Linked DNA regions of Homo sapiens: region 2 is linked to region 1. The links come from fine-mapping of genetic effects on gene expression. Tissue or cell type: sun-exposed skin. Region 1 holds a variant in brackets; the other region holds the start of a gene. All regions are shown on one strand. Distances are between the middles of the regions.

Region 1 (9,310 bases):
TGTCACCGCTGTGGATGTATTTCATAACTTTTGATGTATCATGAACCACTCCAAACTTAGTAATTTAAAACATCAGTCATTTATTTAGCTCACAATTCTGCAAGTTGGCAATTTAGGATGAGTTTAGCTGGGCAGTTGTGTTCTCAGTTAGGCTCCGTCATGAGTCTGTGGTGTGGTCAACTTGATTAGTAAGATGGTTTTGCCCTTATAGTTGGCTGGTTATTAGCTGGAGGGAAGCTCGGCTCTTCTGTAGCTGGAAGTGTAGGCTTTTTCTCCTGGTGGTGGAAGAGGTCTGAGAGAGAGCAGAAGCAAGCCAAGCCTCTTGAGGCTAACTTAGAGCTGGGACATTGTTACTTGTGTTGCATTTTGTTGGCCAAAAGAAGTCATAAGACCTGCTGATTCAAAGGATAGGGATATAGATTCTACCTCTTGCTGACAGCTTCTATAAAGTCACGTTGCAGAGGGTATGGACACAGCCAAGAATGGGTAATTAGGGCCATGTTTGCCCATCAATCTAACATACAATTGGATGAATGAAGGACTCGAAGATGTGCTTAGAACACTATGTTCCTTGTAAATGTGGATTTTAATTTTGCTGTTACAAAATTATGTCATCCAGCTCCCTTTTTATTTCAGCCTGTTGTCTTTGTATCATGTATTCTTTTTCTCTTTATATTGTTCTTTCATTTTTGGTTCGTTGTGAATCTTTATTCAAATCCATGCCAGATAAAAATTGTCTAAAATTAATTTTTGGTTCCTTATTAAATTTTTCTCAGGGAGATCTTCTCTGCCTCTTCAGATTATAATTTATTTCTCATGTTTGGGAGGATTTTTCCTCATAGAGCCCACCTCAATTTTTCCTTTTTATTTGGACACTGTTGGTATTTGCCAACAGAGTGTGTGGATGGTTTTCACTATCCACTTAGGTTTAAATGCCTTCTCAAATCTGTATCTGAGGAATAGGTTGTTATATGGTTCCAAGTGACTGGTTCTTAGACCACTCTAAATGTGGCTTAAACTAGGATCATCTGCTACCATGCCACTTATGCCTGTTTTTTGGGGCACTTAAAAAAAGGTGAAGTATATGGAAAAAAACATATTTTTAAAACGTGTACTACTAACAGGGTTTTCCCTGCATTTTCTGGTCTCTGCAGAGCTTTTCCTGTGATACTAAGCCTTCCAGGAAGCAGTGAACCATTGTCAGTGCCCCCCTACCCTTTTGTCATATTGCTTGCTGGGAATTATATTTAAATGGACATATAAAGAGGTGTGCCACTGGGAACTGGGAATGAGTTACACAACTCTGGCTGCCTCATAAAGCCATCTTTCTACTGCATAAGCACTGTGTCTGTTAAACAGCAGGTGGAAAAAGGGAGTGAGCTAAAGTCCCTTACTCAGCTGCAGAAGTATTGTGTTTCACAGAGCAAAGCAAGCCGTTGCATGGTATATACCAAACAGAAAACTAAGCCTACCATTAATTTGTTTCTAATCCTTGTTTCTGGGAAACTGTCAGAGATTTCTCATCAGAGGTTAACTGAATTTTGGTAGGGTGTGCTGTTGTCTTTTTCTGTGCCTTTGTATGGATTATTGTGAGAAGGTGGGAGAGACTGCACTAGGGGATTCTATTCAGATACCTTCTTAAGCTGAGTCCAAAGTGCATTTAGTTCATAATGCATTTTCCATTTTTTATTAATCAAAAAAATGTATTGAACGAACATTAAGAAACATAGCAACTGCAAAGAGCAGTTTTGAAAGGCCAGGATTTGCTGCTTTTGGTAGCTTATGCAGTGTTATCATGTGAATAAGTTTACTGTTCCATTATAATTTTGCAGAAATTACATATATTTCTTAGTCCTCCATTATTACTTTTAAAGTTTGCTGTTGGAGAAATAGCACTTTGATTTTCTCTTTGTTCCTACCCTGGCCATCAGCGGTCTAGATGTGAAACACATACCTGTCAAGGAGGTTGAAAGACCAGAATGAAGTGCCTCCAGAATTCTCCAAGCCAGCCTGTGGAATAATGGGTCAAAATAGCTGCCAGGACTAGTTGTTGAATCTTTGGAAAAATGATAGTTACTTTCAAAGATGCTATTTTTTCCATAGTTGTCTTATCTCTGGCAACTGTTTCTGGCTGCTAAGTTTAAGATTTAATAGTAAAATTACAACCTCAGGGAGTCCATCTCATTGGAAAGTAACTGGAGTTATTACAGCTGCAGAATTAAGATGTGCTATAACTACTTGATTATTGTTTCTATAATCTCTGATGAATGTAGAGCTTGAATGATGTTCACCATTTTTTGAAAAACATGACTTGGTTTAAATGCCTTCTTAAGTCTTTTAGCACTGAAGTTCATTAATTGGATTTATGGAACAATTGTCTATAGCCTGTTCTCCTTAGTTAAGAGTTTACATTGGTGCCAGATTTTGACAATATGTATTTAACTTTTTTACAGTAGTAACCTAATTGTGAGTGTTTTTAAATGCCATATAAATGAGGGACTCCTAGTTGTTAGGGAAAATCAGTATCTGATCTCTCAAACTAGGTCAGTGCTTTTAAACTGGGCTTTCAGGGAATATCTATAGGTTGTATAAAATGTGCTTCCACTAATAATGAATAACGGTAACCTTTTCCCGGTATGTGGAAAAGTAGTTTTAGATCTTAAACATTTTCAACCCTTTTGTGTGAATTACAAATTGTTTGACTAGTAGAAAATAAACAGGACAAAAACTGAGCAGTAGTCTTGTTTAGTTCACTCACTTATTTTTTCATTGACACGTGCTTGTGATATTTATATTACTTATCTTTAATATAGCTTTGCTTTTTATTAATTATTCTAGATTTTCTACTGGAATTGAATTAAGATTTGTCACAGTATTGCACAGAAAGCACTGTAACTTCCAAGAGCTTTGCCATTAGAAATGGTTTGAGAACCACCGAACTTACCGTCTTGTAGGATATTAGAGGGCAAGGACTTTTGCCATTATCATCACACATGTTGAGTGGAAGCCACTGCAGACTCTTAAGTGGAAAATAACATGAGAAAAATTGGATTTAATATTTTGGGATAAATTTTGGGGGAGTTTTCTGGATGGACTGGTAGAGGTTGAGGGTAAGCATAGGAATGAAGATGGAATGTAACCACTTTAAACGTTGGTAGGTCAGTTTATATTAAGCATTTGATTAAAAGCTCTGAAAACTCTAGAATTATGATTCAAGTTAAAATATTGAGGTAGCTTTCTTTCCTTTTAGTTTGAAAAGTTAATTTTGAATTGATGGACATTATACATGATGACTAAAGCAAATTTTAGCTTACTATTTCTCTCCCCTATTGTCTAAAATGTGATTCTAATATCATAACTGTCATTACAGTCTTGGCCAGTAATTCAGTAAGTAGAAAAGAAATCATTGTCACAAACTTCCAATTACAAGGCTGTAATGTAGCTGTTGAAATGACAACTAAATGGAGAAGACTGGTCTTGCTGGACAAAAAAGCATACGTGACACTTGTGGGGTGGGGAATAGAGAAGGGGGATAAAAAATTGACTTAGATGGACTTTGATCCCAGGGAGTGTGCAGGGAGATAAATGATAAAGATAAATATAATAGTGAATAGGAGTAACAATAGAAGGAGTTATAGTTCAGGTACTATGGGAACTCAAAGAAAATAACATATCAGGTGGGAGAGTCTGGAGGAGGCATTTGAGTTAGTGAGTTTTGAATAGGCACAATGAATAGGTTAAGGAGCATTCTACCTCAAGGGAAAAACATGACCCAAGGCACTGGCACTTAAACAAGTGTGTGTTGAATAGCTGAATGGAATTGGGTAGCGTTTGTTCTTCCACTGATTTACTCACTATGATATATGAATGCCTCCTGAATGGCAAGCACCATGGCAGGTTGGTGCTGGGAATATAATAAGATGACCGTCATGAAACTACAGTCTAATAGAGATAGATAAAACCGACAAATTAATGAATATATAAATCCAAAGTGAGAAAGACTGTTAGGCTACTGAGTAACTTGAGTGAGGATAGATGGTATGATTAGGTAGTCAGGGAAGGACTCTTTGAGGAAACAAAATATAAGCTGAAACTGATCTTTGTTAGGAGCCAGTTTACCCTGTAGGATATTTACCCTGTCTGAAGTCTTTACCATTGTTGCTATCCCAATGTGTTTAATTTGACTAACTAGTCCCCATTCAAACACAACCAGTGAAATTTATCTTTTTCATCAATGTTTGCTTTATTGATTGCTGAATTATTTACCTGTTATAAAATTTATCATGTTATTCTTGTTTTGCAGAAACCGAAGCTGAAAGACTGGCATCCTCCTGGGGGCTTTATTCTGGGATTATGGGCACTTATTATCATGGTTTTCTTCAAAACTTATGGAATTAAGCATATGAAGTTCATTTTTTAGA[C/G]TTGATGATGAATGAAGAATGCATGGAGGACTGCAAACTTGGATAATAATTTATGTCATTATATATTTTTAAAAATGTGTTTCTCTTGTATGAATTGGAAATAAGTATAAGGAAACTAAATTTGAATCAACTATTAATTTTATAACTTAAAGAAAAATAATTGTTAATGCAACTGCTTAATGGCACTAAATATATTCCAGTTTTGTATTTTGTGTATTATAAAAGCGAATGAGACAGAGATCAGAATACATTGACTGTTTTTGAAAATAGTAATTTCCCCTTATCCCCTTTTCATTTGGAAAAGAAACAATTGTGAAGACATTAAATTCTCACTAACAGAAGTAACTTTGGTTAATTATTTTTTGTATATCCTCCCAATCTTTTGACTTATGCACATATTTTTTCCCAATATGGAGATCATATGGAATGTACTATTTTGTAATGTCTTTTTTCATTTTACAATGTATTATCAACCTTTTCCCTCTCAAAAATACATTGTGAATGACTGCATAGTATTCACTTTATGAATATTTAATTCATTTCACAGTCTTCTATTGTTGGACCACTTACATTGTACCAAATGTTTTCCTTTGGTTTATTCTTTAATGTATTAATATTTTACTGCTGGTCACTCATGGAATCCTGCAGCTTTAATTAAAAGCAAAGATGAAAAATTGGTTTTTTAATCTATGGCACTGACAATCTCCAGGACCTTATATGTTTGTTGTCAGTTTATTTGGGAAATTTTAGACCTTTGATAATTTCACGTACTGACTGCTCAAGAGAAACATACCCCATTGTTTTTCATTTGTAAGCGTTCTGTGATCTTCTACAATTGGTCACGTCCTCTTCATTTTCCATCTTGAAAGAGAGAGCCAACAAGGACTTTATTTCATTCTGTTTTAGGTAAACCTCCTTGCCCACTGGCTGTATCTATACTTTCCTTGAGAAAAATCCCATAAAGTGGATGGACCTGTGAAGAAAATGTATGCTTATGGCCTAGCCTTCATGTCTGGCTGATGTATCCTATAAGGCAGTAAGCCCCTTTTCTAGTCTCTGGTAAGATGCAAGAGCTCATATCCCCATCACTGACATTTTAGTTTGGAAATAATATTGAGACTGTGCTATGACCAACCCCTGATGTTGTTTTTTCTTTTCAAACTTTTGCATATGAGTAGAGGAAAAGCCTAAAAGTTAAGTATTTATGTCTGGGGGGATACCTTCAGGTGTCTTATCTGTTTTATGCAAGAATTTATGTGTTCATCTTTATTCAGTGCAAAGATTTTTTTTTAAATTTTGTTTATAATTGTAGGTAACATTAAGACAACTCTTCCTCCACAAGAAAACCTCCTAAAATTAATATTCCTTAAGATTTGTTTTTCCTTTTGCACTTATAATATTACCTTTTAATTGCATGCAAGATTGTCATACTTTTCAAAAGGCAAAGGATTGACTGTGTTATCTCCCTAGTTAGAACAAATGATATTGAGGCTTTTTGCCAGCTCTGAATCTTTATTTTAATTGATCTTTTTATTGATGTGTTATATAAATGAGGAAGAAAAATTTTGTCTGATTATGTGAAGGATCTTTCTGTACATGAAAAGAAGGGAAAATAAACTTGCAATTGAATAGACTGATTATAGTAGCACTGAGACACAAAAAGATTGACCATGTTGCCCTCCAGACACTCATACAAGGTCGTGGACACCACGGTGAGGCGGAGCTATTTAGGGTGGTAAAGGAATTATGATTGTTCTTGAGCCAAAGTAATTTAGTTTGAATATAATGAAACATACCCTGTAAAGACTGCTAGAAAGTAAAAGGATTCGTCTTCAGAGGTTGTAGAAGGTGCCCTTCTTAGTTAAAACCAAACTGGGAAAAGTAATACTGGATAAAATATTCAGGATAAATTTTGCCTCAGCAGAATTTCAAAGGGCAGTTGTTCCTCTGTTTCATTATTGAATCTTCAGAATATAGTTAAAGCCAAAAGCTTAAAATATGTTAAATGTTTCACTTATAACCATAATCTTTTTACATAGAGCATACTCTGCCTTCATAATAACTAAATCCTCTGCATGTGGTAGATGAGTACGTTTAGGAAATATTGTCAGTGCAATTAAATGGCCTACACTTTAAACAGTATCATAAAAACAAATCCTTAAATATATTCTACTTGAGTCACAAAAGCTGAACAACAGAAAGGTGTTTTGTTTTTGCCTTTCTCACAGTGTTGTGGTGAGAATCAGATGAGATAGTATTTTGACTAAACACTTCTGAAATTGTAAATATATGGTGGCATTATTGTTCTTATGTCGGCTTAGGAGGATACCAAAGGGGAAGTTAATGGTCACAGTGCACTTATGTAGCTTTCTAAGCTACTCAATGTGATTCTTGTTCTCTTTGCTGTTCTTTTTCTCCTCCCCCATGGTGTCCTTCAGAGAGAAAAGGAATGTAGATAAATGAATCCCTGCAGATGTGTCCTGACATTTCAGGGAGGGACAGGGTATAATGATGCCATCCTGCAAAGGCAGCCTGTGTGAGAAAAAGAAATCAAATAATGTGGATTTTAAAATTACGAAAGACATTCATTTGCAGTTTATGAAAGGAAAATGTAGTTTGGATACAAAGCTGATTAAATTGGATCAAGAAATATTAGAATTAAATGCAAAAAATAATCCATGCATTTATGGTTTTGATTTTTATATATTCCCAGCTAGTTGAAAATGATGATTCCCACAAGAAGCATAACTCAGCTTGTTTCTGCTTACTGAGTATTTTCTACTATGGTATATATTGATAACATTTCTTCCATTATGTATGTTGTATACCAGAGTTACAGTTACTGTGGGAATCATAATTTGAAATTTTGACTCCTGTGTTTCTGGAATCTTTACAACAAATGTTGCATTAACATATAACTTTTTTCAGTTGACTTTACCAAAATTAAGCCCATCTTTAGTAGATACTGTTTTAACATGTGAAAGAAATACGTTATAAACATACCACAAGATATGGCTATAAAACAATGAGATCAGTATCCATTTTTGCTTTAAAGAATTGGCCTTATTGCTTCAGTGTCACATCTCATACTCAAGGGCATTTACTACAAAGAAAGAGTTCTCCAATATTGCTGTTCTGTTGCTGCCTGCCCTATTTACACATGTACCTGCTACTTAAATAGGAAAGCCTTTCAATTCATGGACAATACACCTTGGTGGTAACCAGGCTTTTATTTTTATTTTTTTTTCTTAGTGTAAAAACTGTACTGTTTTGGAAATGTGCTGTGAAATATTAGGTTTAACTGTGTAGATCCTAGAATAAGGGGATTTATATAGATGAAGTTGTAACCAAGAAACTGGTTATTAAAAATTTATTTACTCCAAACATGGAAAGGTGGCAGTGTCATTCTTGTGTCACCTGCACAGTTTGCAGTCTCAGAGACTTCAGAGGACTCTGAGATTTGCCTGCTGAGGTATACCCAGTCATAGGGTCTGCCAGGTGGGAATCACATGATACGACCCACGTTCAGTTTTCTCTCTTTTGACTATGGTAGTGCCAGCTTTGACTGTGCTAGAGTTTCAGGGACGGACATGAGCGAAACTTTCTTAGGGGGGGTCATTTAATAAGGTCATAAATGTAAAGCAAATTGGCTGGGCATGGTGGCTCATACCTGTAATCCCAGCACTTTGGGAGGCAGAGGCGGGTGGATCATGAGTTCAGGAGATTGAGACCATCCTGGCTAACACGGTGAAACCCCATCTCTACTGAAAATACAAAAAATTAGCCGGGCGAGGTGGCGGGTGCCTGTAGTCCCAGCTACTCGGGAGGCTGAGGCAGGAGAATGGCGTGAACCTCCGGGGGGCGGAGCCTGCAGTGAGCCGAGATTGCGCCACTGCACTCCAGCCTGGGCGACAGAGCGAGACTCCGTCTCAAAAAAAAAAAAAAAAAAAAAATGTAAAGCAAATCACACAATGTCTGACATATAGGAAAAGTCAATGTTTTGTTCTTTGCTGGGCAGGACTATCTTGCTTTTAACTTCCACTCAGGCCCAGGGTCTTGTCACTCTTTAGAGAACATTAGCTTTGCTATTCCTAGACTGTCCTTTTCCCATCTGTTTTCAGCAGGCATAAATTTTGGGTAACAGTTTCTTTCGATACTATCCAACGATTTTAATCCATAGACTCTCTTGCCTCCCTTTTCTAGATTTTTCTCCTATTTTAGGTAGATTGAGGCTTTTCTCATCTTCCCTCAGCCTTAGTGTTCCACTGTCTTCTTTTTTCATATTCAGTCCACTCTGTTGGGAACATACCTTTAACATGATTTAAGGGACAGTCTTTCCTCACCCTCAGGTTGCAGATGTCTGGATAATAATCTAGTACTGCAAAACAGTGAGCATTACATTTCCAAGAGAACATATCCCCTACTTTCCCTACCCTTTGTTAGAGCTTTTTTAGTTTCAAATGATAACAACCAAAGTAGAACAAATGTAGGCCAAGAGGGGAATTTGCCAGAAGAATATTAGGATATTTTGTATAATCTTTCAGAAGTGGGGTCAGGTCTGAGCCTCATCAGGCACTGGAGTATCACCTGGACTCACTCTCTCTCTCTGTGTTCCCTTTATTCCTCCTGGAAACTGACTTTCTCACATGATGGATAGAACCTCATATCCCATGCTTCTACCACAAGAGAGAGGTAAATTACTGTCTTCCTTTAATTCCAGTTCTACAAGTCTTATGGAAGAATAGATTAACCTTATTGGCATCACAGGTTCACAGGCCAGAGGGCTAAGGTCTTGTAAGCCCATAAGGACCTCTGGTGGCATACCCCATTAGCACTCCTCCCAGAGAAGGATGGGATCACAGGAGCCAGGCAGTTACCCTTATTACTTT
Region 2 (8,000 bases), 130 kb before region 1:
TCTTGAATTGTAGCTCCCATAATCCCCATGTGTCAATGGTAGGACCCGGTGGGAAGTAATTTAATCATGGGGGCAAGTTTTTCCCCTGCTGGTCTCATGATAGTGAATAAATCTCAGGAAATCTGATGGTTTCATAAAGGGCAGTTCCTCCGCACATGCTCTCTCTCTTGCCTTGCTGCCAGGTAAGATGTGTCTTTGCTCCTCCTTTGCCTTCTGTCACGATTGTGAGGCCTCCCCAGCCATGTGGAACTGTGAGTCCACTGAACCTCTTTTTCTTTATAAATTACCCAGTCTTGGCTATTTCTTCACAGTAGTATGAAAATGGACTAATACAGTAAATTGGAACTGAGGTAGTGGGGCTCTGCTATAAGGTTAACAGAAAATGTTGAAGCAACTTTGGAACAGGGTAACAGGCAGAGGTTGGAACAGTTTGGAGGGCTCAGAAGAAGACAGGAAAATGTGGGAAACTCTGGAACTTCCTAGAGACTTGGAGGGCTCAGAAGACAGAAAGATGTAGGAAAGTTTGGAACTTCCTAGAGACTTGTTGAATGGCTTTGATCAGAAGGCTAATAGGGATACGGACAAAGAAGTCCAGGCTGAGGTGGTCTCAGATGGAGATGAGGAACTTGTTGGGAAATGGAATAAAGGTCACTCTTGCTATGCTTTAGCAAAGAGACTGGTGGCATTTTGCCCCTGCCCTAGTTATCTGTGGAACTTTGAACTTTAGAGAGATGATTTAGGGTACCTGAGGGAAGAAATTTCTAAGTGGCAAAGCGTTCAAGAGGAAGCAGAGCATAAAAGGAAAACTTGCAGCCTGATGACGTGATAGAAAAGAAAAACCCATTTTTTGCGGAGAAATTCAAGCCTGCTGCAGAAATTTGCATAAGTAACAAGAAGCCACATGTTAATTACCACGACAATGGGAAAAATGTCTCCAGGGCATGTAAGAGGTCTTCCTGGAAGTCCCTCTCATCACAAGCCAGGAGGCCAAGGAGGAAAAATGGGTTTATGGGCTGGGCCCAGGGCCTTGCTGCTTTGTGCAGTCTCAGGCTGCTCACATGTGATATTGGGACTGTGGGTGCACGGAAGTCAAGAATTGAGGTTTGGGAACCCTGCCTAGATTTCAGAGGATGTATGGAAACACCCGGATGTTCAGGCAGAGGTGTGCTGCAGGGGCAGGGCCCTCATGCACGACCTCTGCTAAGGCAGAAGGGCAATGCAGAAGGGAAATGTGGGGTGGGATCCCCCACACAGAGTCCCCACTGGGGCAGTGCCTAGTGGAGCTGTGAGAAGAGGGCCACCATCCTCCAGACCCCAGGATGGTAGATCCACCAACAGCTTGCAGCATATGCCTGGGAAAGCCAGAGACACTCAATGCCAGCCTGTTAAAGCAGCTGGGAAGGAGGCTGTATCTTGCAAAGCCACAGGGGCAGAGCTGCCCAAGACCATGGCAACCTACCTCTTGTATCAACGTGAACTGGATGTGAGACACGGAGTCAAAGCAGATCATTTTGGAGCTTTAAGATTTGACTGCCCTGCTGGATTTTGGACTTGCATGGGCCCTGTAGTCCCTTCATTTTGGCCTATTTCTCCCATTTGGAATGGGTGTATTTACCCAATGCTTGTACCCCCATTGTATTTAGGAAGTAACTTAACTTGCTTATGATTTTACAAGCTCATAGGCAGAAGGGACTTGCCTTGTCTCAGATGAGACTTTGGACTGTAGACTTTTGAGTTAATGCTGAAATGAGTTAAGACTTTGGGGGACTGCTGGTAAGGCATGATTGCTTTTGAAATGTGAGGACAGGAGATTTTGGAGGGGCCAGGGTGGAATGATATGGTTTGGCTGTGTCCCAACCCAAATCTCATCTTGAATTGTAGCTCCCATAATCCCCAAGTGTCAAGGGAGGGACCTGATGGGAAGTAATTTAATTATGGGATCAGTTACCCTCATGTTGTCATGGTAGTGAGTTCTCACGAGCTCTGATGGTTTTATTTATCTATCTATTTATTTATTTTTATTTTATTTCATTTTATTTTTTGAGACAAAGTCTGGCTCTGTTGCCCAGGCTGGAGTACAGTAGCGTGATCTTGGCTCACTGCAACCTCTGCCTCCCAGGTTCAAGCGATTCTCCTGCCTCAGCCTCCCTAGTAGCTGGTATTACAGGCATGTGCCCCCACACTGAGCTAATTTTGAAACATGGGGTTTTGCCATGTTGGCCAGGCTGGTCTTGAATGCCTGACCTCAGATGATCTGCCTGCCTCGGCCTCCCAAAGTGCTAGGATTACAGGTGTGAGCCACTGCACCTGGCCTCTGATGGTTTTATAAAGGGTAGTTCCTCTGCACATGCTCTCTCACCTGCTGCCATGTAAGATGTGCCTTTGCTCCTTCTTCATCTTCTACCATGATTGTGAGGCTTCCCCAGCCATGTGGAACTGTGAGTCCACTAAGCCTTTTTCTTTAGAAATTATGCAGTCTTGGGTATTTCTTCATAGCAGTATGAAAATGGGTTAATACAAGTAAAGTCTCATCAAAGTGTGGGTATGAAGTTACATCTGGTCATGAATTTGAGGCATAATCATTAATCTTGTCAGACATTATCTTATGTACAGGAAGAGGCAAGGGCTAGGATCACCAAACTTACCTTTTGTAAAAATTCAGTGATTCAGGCAAGAGATGTGCAAACCTATTCCCTATCCTGCTTATGGTCTTCAAGGCATTCTTCCACAAGGCTGCTCACAGTCAATGAGTCAGGGGCTTTGTGAAATATTGCTGGCAAAGGAGCAGAATGAGCAAATGGCTTCTTATCTTTGCTACTTTGTTTCATAATCATCAGCATCCAATAGATATCTGTTGAATTAATGAATACATGGAAGATATTCTGGCAGTGTATTTACTTTCTAGGATTCACGTAACGGAAAACCTAAATTTGACTAAATAGCATGAAACCTCTCACAAAGTGCAATAGCAAAAGAAACAAATAAAAGGAAAAGAGAGACAAGAGAATGGGAAAAGCAATAGCATAAAATATGGCAAAGGCTAATGTTACTTATTTATAAATATATTATTCAAATTCATATGCAAAACATAAATATATAAACAAAGAATTTACATCAGAGGACACAGAGATAGTTTAGAAACACAAGAAAGACATCAGATCTTGATAGTAACCAAAGAATTATAAGTATAGTTACCTAGGGGTAACATTTCATACCAAAGAATTTAAAGGAAAAAAAATGGTATGGTTTGGTGTTGTGTATTCTGATAGTGCTGTAAGCTTGTTCATTTTGGAAAGCAACATCATTTATAGTTATTAAAATGTTTTGGAATATTTTGACCCCAAATTCCTAGTTCAGGAAAATTATACAAACAAAATAATTCAACAGATTTAAAAAGCCAAACACACAAAAGATACTCTTTACAATATTATTTTCATAGTAAAACTTAAAAACTTTGCATTGTGCAGCAGAGGGACAATTACTTTGGCTGAGGCATCAATAATGGATGGAATTTTATCTCACCATTAAATGTTAAAATTGTGAGGAAGCAGCGTGGAAACGTTTATGTCATACTAGATGAAATGCATAAATTAAAACTGAACTCACATAATAAAGAGAATGGTGGACCATACATATACACCAGCTGTGTCTCTTCCAGATAGGCTTTAGTTCCATAATTACAGAAGATACTCAAGAAACAAAAACGTAACTAGCTTCCCATGTTAATCCTTTCACCAGGTAGTAGACCCCAAGCCTCTAAATTGCAGCGCCCACCCACATTTTCCATTTATAGTTTATCCAATTAATCATCTTTTTGTGCCAAAACGCTTGTTCTTCCCACCACATCCAGCTTCATATTTTCAAAGAATTGGCAGCACTCGGCAAAATAAATAAATAAATAAATAAATAAATAAATAAAATAAATAAGGGAACAGAGAAATAAGTTTTTAAAGTTTAAGGAGTTACGGGTTTTCCCTCCACTCACCTTTCAATTTTTTTTCTTAAATGTTATACCTATTTTACAACCTCCAAACTGAAAATGCAGTTAAAAATAAAAAGGTCAATATCCTGCGTCTACCTTGTCCCGGACTCTCGAGCTCCACAAAACCGCAGAGTTCTAAAGCCGGACCAGAGGGCCACCTCGAAGAGGCGCGGATGGTGTCGCAAAAACCCGCAGCGCTACTTTACGGCACTGCCTCCGCCCCTTCAGGTGCGGGAAGTCTGAAGCCGGTAAACATGGCCGTCACCGACAGCCTCAGCCGGGCTGCGACTGTCTTGGCAACTGTGTTGCTCTTGTCCTTCGGCAGCGTGGCCGCTAGTCATATCGAGGTAGGAGTCAGGCTCATTTGACCACAGCCGGGAGGCCGGCTGTGAGCCCTCCAGCAGATGTCCGATACACAGTAGCTGAGGGACGCCTCCTGGAGTCAATCAGCCCCTGACCCAGGCTGGGTTTGAGGAGGGTATCACTGGGCACGGGTTAGGACACTGTTGGTCTGTTTCAGCGTTTTAAAACGATGAATTGAAATAATCAAACCCTCGGAGACAGAGGAGGACCTGATCCTTTGCTCCTACATGTGTGCAGTTCTTAGGTGAAATACGAGCAAGAGGCTCGTGAAATGTCAGTGTGCAGCAACTGCTTTCCTACTACTCAACTGCAGCCCTCTGTTTTGATAGGAGTCAGACGGAACTGGAGAGATGAGGGCAATTTTAAGAATCCAGATAATAGAATTTAGTGATAATTAGAACATGGGATAAATATAAGTGTTTATTAAAACTCTCAAGTTTCTGGCTTAGGGGCAACACGTCTGGGTTAAGAAATGGAAGAGAAAAGGGGTGCTTAGTTTTATCCTGGGCTCCTCCAGCTTCCCATTTTTAAACGTGGACACAGGATGTTCTGGTGCTCTATAATGCTTTTACTATTCACCATACTCTGATGATTCCTCAGTCCCGGTCTACAATCTAGATGTCTGGTATCTTTTTCAGGCCTGCATATCCAGCTGACTAAGAATCCGGGATAGTCAGGAGACATTTGAAAATCCGTGTGCAAAGTTTTATCTTCTGCTTATCCTACCTCCTCTTAAAAAGACACTGAAAAACTAAGCACCCCTTTTCTCCTCCATTTCTCAACCAGATGTGCTGCTCCTAAGCTAGAAACCTGAGAGTCTTAATCTCTTTATCCCATATTCTAATTATCACTAAATTTTGTGATCTGAGTTCTTAAAATTGCCCTCACCTCTCCAGTTCCACTGACTTAATTCAGGCTGTGATCACTTCTTGTCTAGACTCTTGCGATTACTTTATCTTGTTTTCCATAGGCCTCCATACTCCCTGAGTTTGGTGCTAGATTCGTCTACACGAAATGTAAGCCTGATCAGGTTATTCTTCTGATGAAATCTTTTAAATATTTATTAATTGCATACAGAATAAAGTCTAAACGTTATGACCTGGTGCTTGCCTACTTTTCCAGTGTTCCATATTGGAACCTCTTCTCCCCACCACCTGGGCACCTTGAGCTTAGACCAGTGGACTCCAAACTTTTTGAATACACACCCTATCAGTTAAAAAAAGATATTGAGCATGAACTTCATATATATTTATGAATTACTGTTAATTTATATATTTGATGTTTATATAGCATAATTTTTAGAGAACATAAATATGAGTAAATAGAAGTTCTGTTTCCCTCCTTTATTCTAACTTTGACTGCTTCATCTTGGATACTATTACTGTTTTTTGTAGTTACATAATTGCTGTGCTTTTTCACATTACAATATTTTATACATTGTGTTTCCTCTGTTCATGTGCTAAGATACAGTAAAGGCATAACCTCTGTAGAACGTTTCCCTATCTCTTACCTTTGCCTTTACTCTTGTAATTTGTACACTTGATACAGCACTCATTTACTATAACCCGTGTATGGTTTGTACTGTTATTCCATCATATCTCACTTAGAGATAGGAGCAACAGTTTCCTAAATGTTTTGCCTTGAGTCGTTGTTTTTTCCTTTCAATCTGTTCTCCAAATTGAAGCCAGAGTAACTTTTAAAAATGCAGTTCCAATCATGTCACCCAGGGACCTTGATGTTGCTCAAAAGATCACCTTAATGTTGCTCTAAACTCTCCACCATGACCCACAAACAAAAACCCTGCATATTTTTTGGGCCCTGACTACACTTCAAATTTTTTCTTTCTCTTTCAAACTTCTAGTTAGGCTAACTTTCTTTCAGTTTCTCAAAACCTTTAAGCTTTTTCTCACATTAGAGCTGTCTCCCCTCTGTCTGGAATTGTATTTCCTCTTTTCTTCATCTTTTGGATTTTAACCCAACAGTCACTTCTTTAGGAAAACTTTCCTGACCAGGTCAGGTCCCTCTGTTGTACTCTTATTATATTGTGTGTCTTTCCTTATCTGTTAAATGTATATCTATCCAATTAGATAGTAACCTATTTGAAGGCAGTACTATGGCTATTTTTGCCCAGCATTGTATTTGGAGCACTCAGGGCAGTGACTGGCATGTTGCCCAATGAGTGTGATGAATTAATGAATGTAATAATTATAGTGTAATGTGTTTGCATGCTCCTCTTTATTGAACTCTGGATTCTTGAGAGAAAGCAGCATGCTTTTTAGTGATTTTTGTATCACTATATATTAATGGTATCTGGCACATAATAGGTGCTGCATTTACTGTATGTAGAATGAATAACTTTATAATGACTGTATTGTCTAGACAACCACAAAAAAGTTTTGCCATCTAAATTTTTTCACTAAGGTCTGAAAGAAGTAAGAACTTTGGAGGTGGAAGGCACATTAGAGACATGAGGATAGTCAAGTCTAAAGAGCTAAATGACTTACCGCAATTTCACAGCCAGTTGCGAGATAGGACCTAAATTTTAGCTTAGGTCTTTGAATTCCCAAATCAATGCTTAACCACTGTAGCACATTGCTTTCTTTAACATCCAGGCAGCTGTTGAGTTTGGAGGGGGAAAAATACACACACACACACCCCCCCACACACACATGCCACACACACACTTTTTGTTCAGGTTATTATTCTATATTTATCATGTCAATTTATCAGAAACAATGCTTAACAATAGACAACCCATTATAGTTTCATTTAATGTGAAATACTATGTTATTGCCTTGCTAAATTAAGGGTATTTTATCCTAGCCATAGTAATTTCAGAGATCAGTTTTTTCCATCTCTATTGGTAGTTAACGTAAGAATTAACTTGTATTACTACAGCAAATGATATTCTAATGAAAATTGATATTCTTGAGGGTTACATGTACACTCTAAAATCTGTTAATGATATTTCACAAATCTCCAGAAATAGATACTTTACTTTCTGACCAATGTTGTATTCTCTTTAAGCGATGCCTCTCTTTTTGTAATATGTATATTTTAATTGGCACAATAATTGTGCATATTTATGGGGTATATAGTGTGATATTTTCAGACATATTCAATATGAAATGATCAAATCAGAGTAATCAGCATATCTGTCACCTCAAAACTTTATCATTTCTTTGTGTTGATAATATTCAAAATGTTAGAAAAGATTTCTAGGTAGTTGAGAAAATATAATAAATTATTGTTTACTATAGTTACTCTAAAGTGCTATAGAAGGCTAGAACTTATTCCTGCTATCTGTAATTTTGTATCTGTTAACGAATGTCTCTCTGTACTCCCCCCGTCACCTTCCTATTCTTCCCAGCCTCTATTCTACTCTATTTCCATGAGATCAAGTTTTTAAAAATGTCCGTATCTGGGTGATATTGAAATTAAAAAATTTAAATTTCTGTGCCTGACTTATTTCACTTAATGTAATTTCCTCCAGGTTCATCCACGTACCTGTTTATGAAAGGATTTTATTCTTTTTATGGATGAATAATACTCCATTTTATATATACACGTGTGTGCACGCACACACACACATTTGCTTTATCCATTCATCTACTGATAGACACTCAGGTTGATGCTATATCTTGGTTATTGTGAA

The links. PIP is the estimated chance that this variant, and not a neighbour inherited with it, causes the effect.
Region 2: it holds the start of PIGK, and the variant in region 1 is fine-mapped to the expression of PIGK in sun-exposed skin (GTEx, PIP above 0.99). The same link has a PIP of 0.9 or more in CD4 T cells.

The regions. Positions count from the first base shown.
Region 1 is chr1:77,087,484-77,096,793 of GRCh38, reverse strand. It overlaps PIGK (phosphatidylinositol glycan anchor biosynthesis class K), which reads left to right. Exons shown (of 11, transcript NM_005482.3): 11 at 4,304-7,805. The coding sequence ends at 4,420. Among named protein-coding and RNA genes, the nearest start is that of MIR7156, 32 kb to the right of the region's middle. The variant C/G (reference allele first, on the strand shown) is at 4,422.
Region 2 is chr1:77,215,639-77,223,638 of GRCh38, reverse strand. PIGK (phosphatidylinositol glycan anchor biosynthesis class K) reads left to right here and starts at 4,209. Exons shown (of 11, transcript NM_005482.3): 1 at 4,209-4,329. The coding sequence starts at 4,237. LOC105378808 (a long non-coding RNA gene) reads right to left here and starts at 4,119. Exons shown (of 3, transcript XR_001738109.2): 1 at 3,986-4,119; 2 at 2,646-2,851. RefSeq lists an enhancer at 4,416-4,525.